2 linked regions of the Homo sapiens genome follow. The protein of the gene in region 1 interacts with the protein of each later gene in a pairwise test. Each region holds a gene or a part of one and is shown in the gene's direction. Other genes may lie near its edges. The genes, in order: TEX29 and C14orf180.

Region 1 (3,806 bases):
CAGCCGGTGACTTCAGCCTGCCCTGTGCACTCTGCCTTGGCAGGTGCGGCATCGCCTCGGCAGGGCTCCCGTGTCCATGATGCTTCTGACAGAGGATGAGGGCTGCAGCCGCAGCATTTGCAAACCTGGAATGGGGGTGTCTTGAGAAGGGGAACCTGAAAGACTAAATCAACCCTAAGGAACACAAATGGGGCTCCTCAAGGGTCAAGAAGGCCGGGCAGCTCCCCTCCCGGCCCCTGTCCCAGTGGAACAACTTACAGAGGGGCCAGGGAAGACCCCCAGTGGCTTGGGTGCAGCCTTGGCCTGGGGCATGGAGCCTGGCTTTGTGGGACTGCAGTCCACCCAGCAAAGGTCTCTGCGGGCACCCTGGGCCCTCACCTGCAGGAACCCCCTTCATCATCCAGCCCAGTCCCTCGGTGGCCCATGGCCGATCAAGGCAGCCACATCCCTCGGGGCTGAACATGTGTGAGGCTGCTGAACTCCTCTGGAAAGGGTCGTCTGCCAGGAGCTCTCCCCGCCCTGCTTCCTTTACCTCCCACGGCGCGCCGCACACTCATTGTCTTCCCTTTTTCTCCCTTTGGGTCAAAACTGGCATTAAACTTTCTGTCCTTTTGATTCAAGTTTTAAAATTCTGAAATAATCCTCAGGCCATGCTGCTAATTCTAACTCCTGTATGCTTAAGTGTGAAATAATTACACGTTCCCTCCCGAACTCCCAAGCAGCCATTGTGTGAGCCCCGCGCTTCTGTGGGCTCTGTCGTGCGCCGTGCCTGGCGCTGCTGCGCGGAAATGTATTATCTCCTAATCGTTAGAGGCCCCTGCATTATTCTGTGTAATTAACTTGACATTATTTTGCTCAGAAATTTAATTCATTCTGGATCTTAGTTTCAAATAAAGATTTGCAGGATGCGTAATTGAGAAAATAACAAAACCACAACACAAACCCACAGCTGCTCCCCACACCGGTTCCCAGGTTCTTTAGCGGAGAGCAGAGTGGCTTTGTTTTCGGGGGTGACACTTGTGTATGTCTGTGCTTTTGCAGTGTGTGACGTTCCTCTGTATGACATTTGTGACTACAACGTCTCCAGGGACCGATGCCAGGAGCTCGGGTGCTGCTTCTACGAAGGCGTCTGCTACAAGAAAGCGGTTCCCAGTGAGTAGACGCCCCGGCCACCCCGTGGCGGAAGCCGAGGTAGCTGGTGACCATGCCGACCACTGCCCTGCCTGTCTCCCTTCCTCGGGGTCTCTGTTTGCTGGAAACACCTTTGTATTGTTCTCTGGCCAACTCTTCTGCTCCGTCTTAGTGGGGACAGTAGACTTGGAGTGGGGTTTGGGCTGGAGGGCCTGTGAATGTGACGTAAGCCACCATAGGGGTTCCATTCCCAGATGGGCTGAGCAGGGCATGGACGGGGACAAATGGAGGCCCCCTTCATGGAGGAATTTGGCCATTCTGGGTGGTTGCAGAGGCTGGATTTGGGGAAATAGTGCTGCAGAAACATGGGGCGCCGGCAGGGCCCGGGCCAGTGGCCGGGTGTGGGGTGAGCCCATCAGGGTGGAGCGGACCTTGTCCACCAGGGGCTCTGTGAGCTTGGCCCTGACTGGGGATTCCGTGGGCTGCTTCAACGTCAGACTAGAAGCCAGACCAGACGTGAGGATCTGCTGGAAGCCCCTCAAGCAGCACGGGGTGAAGTGAGGACAACAGGCAACCAGTGGGTGGGTAAGGGCGCCGGAGGCGTTGCCACTCCCCATCCCCGTGAAGGCTTCCGGAGGGAGGCGCGCCCTTCAGAGGACCATGGCTAGTTGTAAAATGTGTTCGAAGGGAGGTGGGAGAAGGTTAAGAAACCAGGATGGCCTGCGCGTGAAGGGCGTTGGGCTCCCACCTCCTCAGCATATTCTCGCCTGTGAGTGCACTGGCCTGCGCCGCTGAGGTCTTCTCATTTCCAAACCCTCATCAAGGTCCACGTGAAGCTTCATGTGTTTCCTTGTCCTGTGGAGGCCCCTTTTGGAAATGAGGGTAAAGGGGCTCTTTGTGCTGCGTGGGGAGGGGTGGACAGCAGCACGGAGGGGAGCAGCCTGCACAGCACGCCCTCGGGAGGGAACAGTGCAGCCCTTACCGGTGGAGATGATGGACGTGGCTGATGAGCTCTCACAGCTCTAGGCTTCCTTGGAGATGAGTTCCAAACCCTCCCTGTCCTAAGCCACTCTTTTCTCCACCCCCACCACCCCAAAGTGAGTAAAGGCCCCTGGCTTTGTGCAGCTCAGGGCCACTTCTTCTTCCTTTTACTTCTTTCTCCTGCATTTCCCGCTAGACTGAGCCTTCAGAGACCAGGCACCAGGTCCTCTTCGTTCCCTGTATCTAGTAGGGCTTAGAAAGTCGGGAAACGTTAGTGACTGATGGGAATGAGTGACTGATGGAAATTTCCAAGTAGTGACCTGCTGGTGGAACCTAGCACAAGCTTGGCTGCTCACCGCTTGCAAAGCCTGTAACAAATGAAGGGAAAGTGACTTTATTTCCAAAGCTAGCAGTGGGGAAGTGGCTGACTTGCGCTTCCAACTTTAGGCTGGGAAGAGGGGCTTAAAAAGAGGCACTCAGAATGGGAGGCACATGGGAGGGGTGCTTCTACAAGGTCTGAGGGTCTCGTTCCAGTGGCTGTCGCAAGCCACAGCCCACCTGGAGCGGGAGGTGTCATCATCTTGATGGCTGGTTGTAGACTCACCGCCTTCAGGTGATCTCTGGCATTTTGCAGCTGGTTCTCTATGCTTGGTCTATCTCAAGATGAGCCCCTAGAACTTGTAAGTAAGCCCATAATTAAATACCAGCACACAGTTAGATAAATGTGCATGGGGCTAGGGGGCGCGTGGTGAGAAAGGGAGACCATGGTGTTGCAAAGAAAGTACATTTCAAGGCTATATTTTAAGACTAAGGAGAACAAAAGTTTTTTGCAGTAAGCTTTCTGCATCGTGAGACTAGGGGAAGAAGAGAAAAAGGAAAAAAAAAGTTTTAAAACTCATTTTCAGGCTACACTGTTTGATTACGTGGGGACTGCCCAGTCCTACAGACGTAAAGCCTTAAGCCAGCTCCTCTGAGATGAAAGGGATATTCTGGGCACAAAATCAGTCAAGAAAGAAAGTGCTGATGGGATTCTGGCTTGCTCCAGAGAGGGTGTCTGTCCTGCTTCGTGGTGAGGATTTGGCACCTCATCAAAAGAAGATGAATTTTCGCTCCTCAGAGACAAATGAGAGGTCACAATGGATACCACTGATAGTTGGGAAGGTTTTCTGATGACGACGGCTCCTGCAGATCCTGGCTTTAGAGACTCGGGACCAGACCCCTCGCTGTCCCAGCCTCCACTTCCAGGAGCCTCTGGGATTCCCAGGATCTCACGCCTTCCTCTGACTACAGATAAAATCGGTTGGAAATTGCTTCAGCTATTATTTTTACCAAGATACTATACCATAAAATTCACCTTTTAAAGTATACAATTCAGTGGCTTTTAGTATATTCACAGTTGTACAGTCATCACCACTAACTCCAGAACATTTGTACCACTCCAGAAAGAACCCTCACGCCCATTAGCAGTCGTGTCCTATCCTTCCCTCTCTCTGGCCCCTGGCAGCCACTCATCTGTCTATGGACTTCCGTATTATGGACATTTCATATAAATGGAACCACATGATTTGTGGTTCTTTCACTCACGTAGTTCTCAAGGTTCGTTCGTGTTGTAGTAGCTATCAGTACTTCCTTTCTGTTTATTGCGGAGTCATTGTCCACTGTATAGGTATGCCGCATTTTGTTGACCCATCTAT
Region 2 (3,806 bases), on another chromosome or scaffold:
TCTGAACGAGCAGGGAACAGGATTTACCTGCACTGGGGACACCACAGAGGAAAAGTGGTGTCTGCTCAACAGCGTGGCCGGTCGCAAGCCCGGGAAGCCAGCCTGGCTTCCAGGAAAGAATTTTCTCCTCCTCTTATTTTCATTCCTCTGAGTGCCACTTGTGCAGTAAATAATAAATAACGTCTCTGCTTATCTTAGGACCATGTTCCAGTAAATGAGGACTGCAGCAGGAGCCGTGAGCCCTGACTCCCGGCCAGAGACACGACGTCAGACCAGAAAGAATGAGGAGGCCGCGTGGGGCCCGCGGGTGTGCAGGGCAGAGAGGGTAAGGCGGGCCGCTGGGACACAGCTTCTGCAAGCTGGCCTTCCACTGGGGGCTGGAGGGGGCAGGGAGCAACAGACGTGGAAAGGCCATCCTCCACCCCAGGAATCAGGGGGTGATAGGAGGAGGGCAGGGGGATCACTGAGGGCTGGGGGGAGCAGCGGGGGGCAATGGGTGCCTTGAAGGATTTGGTCTGGCAGAGGAGATTGGAGGCCCCCAGGTGGGGCACAGCTTGGCAGAGGAAGTGGGAGCCATGGAGGGCTGTGGAAGAGGCAGCTCAGGGAGGAGGGTGTTGGAGGAGGGAAGAGGGTGGAGAGAGGACAGGTCAAGACTGTCACCAAGGGTCAGTGTTAGGGTTAGGGGCCCAGACCTCAGACCCTGAGGCTCCATCCAGCCTCTGAGGCACTGCCAGGCTGGGGCATGCCACAGGCACAGCAGGAGCTGGGCCAGACTCAGCATGGGCAGGCCTCACGCCCTCGCGGGGCAGCCTCGCCAGATGCCGAGCAGCAGGCTGTGTACAGCGAGCAATGCCCCAGCCAGGAACAACCTCAGAGCTGGCCCGGCTCCCAGGGTGCCTCAGCCCCAGTTGTCACCATGTCACAGACAAGGATGCTGAGGTTCACAGCAGCCCGAAACTCCCACTCCATCTTCCAGACTCAGGCTGGGCCCATACACGTGAGCAGACCAGCAGAGAAAGGGCCCAGGTAGGCAAATGTGTAGGAGCTGCCCCCGCCTGCAGCCTGGGAGGCTCGGCCCCAGGGAAAAGGAGGCCGAGGCCACCAACCAGCCCTCCTCACGGCCCTGGCCCGGCCCCTGCCCCATAGAGCTTGCAAACTCTGGCCCCTTAGCCAGAGCCCCTCTGCCATTGCAGCCCCCTCCCCCTGTCCACATGTCCTGGGGACCCTGTCCAGCAGCCTGCATCCGAGACAGCGGGCAGACGAAGAGAGGTTCAGTGGGGACTTGCGTGAAGAGACGGGGTCAGGAGGGGCTCCTGTCTTGCCTGGGCCCCTGAGGCTGAGTCTGGCTGCCCTGCAGTCCCTGTCCAGGAGCTGCCCCTCACCCTACAGGAAGTGACAGGCCCAGCATAGCGCACCAGCCAGGACAGGGTACAGGTTCCAGGACGGTGCTGCTGGGCCCCACATGGCTCAGACCTGGGTACCAGCGGCCTCCCGCCGGGGACTCACCAGTCTGCTTCCCGCCCCCACACCAGGAGGACAACAGGAAGTGCCCCCCCTCCATCCTGAAACGGAGCCGGCCGGAGCACCACCGCCCAGAGGCCAAGCCCCAGAGGACCTCGAGGCGCGTGTGGTTCCGAGAACCCCCAGCGGTGACCGTCCACTGTAAGAGGGCACCCGCAGCAAGCAGCTGGGAGAGGGTGGAGTCAAGCAGAGGGAGGCGGGGACACCGGCCACACCCACACAGCTCTGGCAGGGCCCAGGACATGGGGGGGCCGTGGCCACCTGCCTTCAGTGCCACAACCCCTGTAAGACCTGGGCCCCTGGGGTCATCTGGACACACAGTCCCGGTCCATGAAACAGCAACTGGAGGAGAACATGAGGGCGGATTCTCAAATCATGACTGTCCCTTTGAGGAAGTGTCAGGACCGGCTGGGCCTGGGTCTCTCACTGATGAATAGTCTCAGGGTCCTTCGGGGGTGCAGGGTGAGACGAGAGGGCGGGGGCGCCCGATGGACTGAGGCAGGTGCCCCCAGCTGACTCTCCATTCTCTTTCGCAGACATTGCTGACAAGAACGCCACAGCCACTGTCAGGGGTGAGTTCTGAGCCCACATCCCTGTGCCCCACTGCCCCCTCCGTGGGTGCACCCACCCTCACTCCCTCCCCGAGGGAGGTGTCACAGGGCCAGGGCCTCTAAGGAGTCCCCAGTTGGGGAGCTCTTGTTGCAAGGAGACCCCAAGAGGCTAGGGAGGGGCCATGGGCATGGACAGGGTGGAATCTCCCCATCCCTTCCCCACCAGCCCCAGTCCTCCAGGGAAGGGTCGCGCTGGCTGGCGCTGACCCTGCCTGCCCTCTGGCCGCAGTGCCCGGCCGGCCCAGGCCACACGGCGGCTCCCTGCTCCTGCAGCTGTGTGTGTGCGTCCTGCTCGTGCTGGCCCTGGGCCTATACTGCGGCCGGGCCAAGCCCGTGGCAACGGCACTGGAGGACCTGCGGGCCCGGCTCCTCGGCCTTGTCCTGCACCTGCGGCACGTGGCCCTCACCTGCTGGCGCGGCCTCCTGCGGCTCTGACGGGCAGGACGGGCAGGACGGGCAGGGCTTCCAGGAGAGCTCAAGCACTCCGGGGGCTCCGAGACAGCCTGAGCCCTGGCCCTGCTGCTTGGTGAATCATGGGGGCCAAAAGGGGCTGCTGCCTGAGGGCTAACTAGGAAAAGGGGGACCCCGTGGCGTGAGATCGGACATGGGGGGCACAGCAGGCGGCCCCGCCACACTAGTCAGCACAGCCCTCCTGTCTCCTGTGTTGGGTCCATGTGAGATTTTATTAGAAAGAGGATTCGACTGCTAACAGTTGAGGCTCCCCAGGCTCACCCAAAGACCCCTCCCTCGTCCCAGCAGGAACTCCTGCTGCTGCTAGGGCCTGGCCCGGCCATCACCGTGTGCACCCTCTTGAGGAGGGGGACACACTGCCCGTGTTCAAGGGGCTGCTCGGAGGAGGCAAACCCAGCCTTTTGCGATTATGGCTTGTGGGGAATCCAGACCTCGAAACCCCACGGGGAGGGAAGGGTCTGGTTGTCAAGGTGGGTCCCTTTGATGTGAGGTGCCATCCTCTGAGCCCAGGTCTGACCCCCCTACCCAGCCCCGTGAGTCTGGAGAGGCCCCAGGGAAGGACCCCTCATCAGGGGCGGCTTCAGGTGTAGAAGCCGAGGGGACAGCAAGGGGCCCAGACACCCCCGACCTTCAGAACAGCCATCTGTGCCCAGCTCTGCAGGCCAGGCACACCCAGCTGAGCCCGGGGCCAGCCAGCACCACCCACCAGCTGGGGCCTGTGGGTCCCGGAGACCGTCTGTGGTTGTGGCTTTGTCGCCGGATTGCAGAGCTGAAGGGAGCCCTGTGGATGACAAACACCAGGGGCCTCTCCAGACCCTACGTGGGGGGAGGGCTGAACAAAGCAGGGAGGCCCACGGTTAGACACCAGGCAGAACTGCCCAGGAGAGACACAGGGACAATCAGACCAGCGTCCTCGAGGTTAGCCTGAGGCGGGTGGGCACGGCCGACCATCCACCCGGTGGTTCCTGTTTGTCCCACCACTTAACTGGGAGACACTGTTTTATTAAAACACACCGTGGCTTCCTTCAGTCTTGGTGTTTTTATAGAAATGAGAGAAACCAGAACCGATTTGCTAAGGAATCGGCCTCAGTGGCCAAAGCGGATGTCCTGGGCGCCTGGAACCTCCCCATCTCCTGCAGGCCTGGGAGTGGATGTGTCCACTCGGGCAGGGGCTGACCAAGCCCCTGGGTCTTGAGGGATGCC

What was found.
Region 2: the proteins of TEX29 (region 1) and C14orf180 interact in binary tests that used the Homo sapiens proteins (3 or more experiments, as listed by UniProt).

What each region holds. Positions count from the first base shown.
Region 1 is NC_000013.11:111,327,142-111,330,947, forward strand, and holds part of TEX29 (testis-expressed protein 29), read left to right. Parts: intron 1-1,041; coding exon 1,042-1,152; intron 1,153-3,806.
Region 2 is NC_000014.9:104,586,217-104,590,022, forward strand, and holds part of C14orf180 (nutritionally-regulated adipose and cardiac enriched protein homolog), read left to right. Parts: intron 1-198; 5' UTR 199-214; coding exon 215-325; intron 326-1,532; coding exon 1,533-1,662; intron 1,663-2,057; coding exon 2,058-2,093; intron 2,094-2,361; coding exon 2,362-2,567; coding exon of another isoform or gene 2,568-2,662; 3' UTR 2,663-3,806.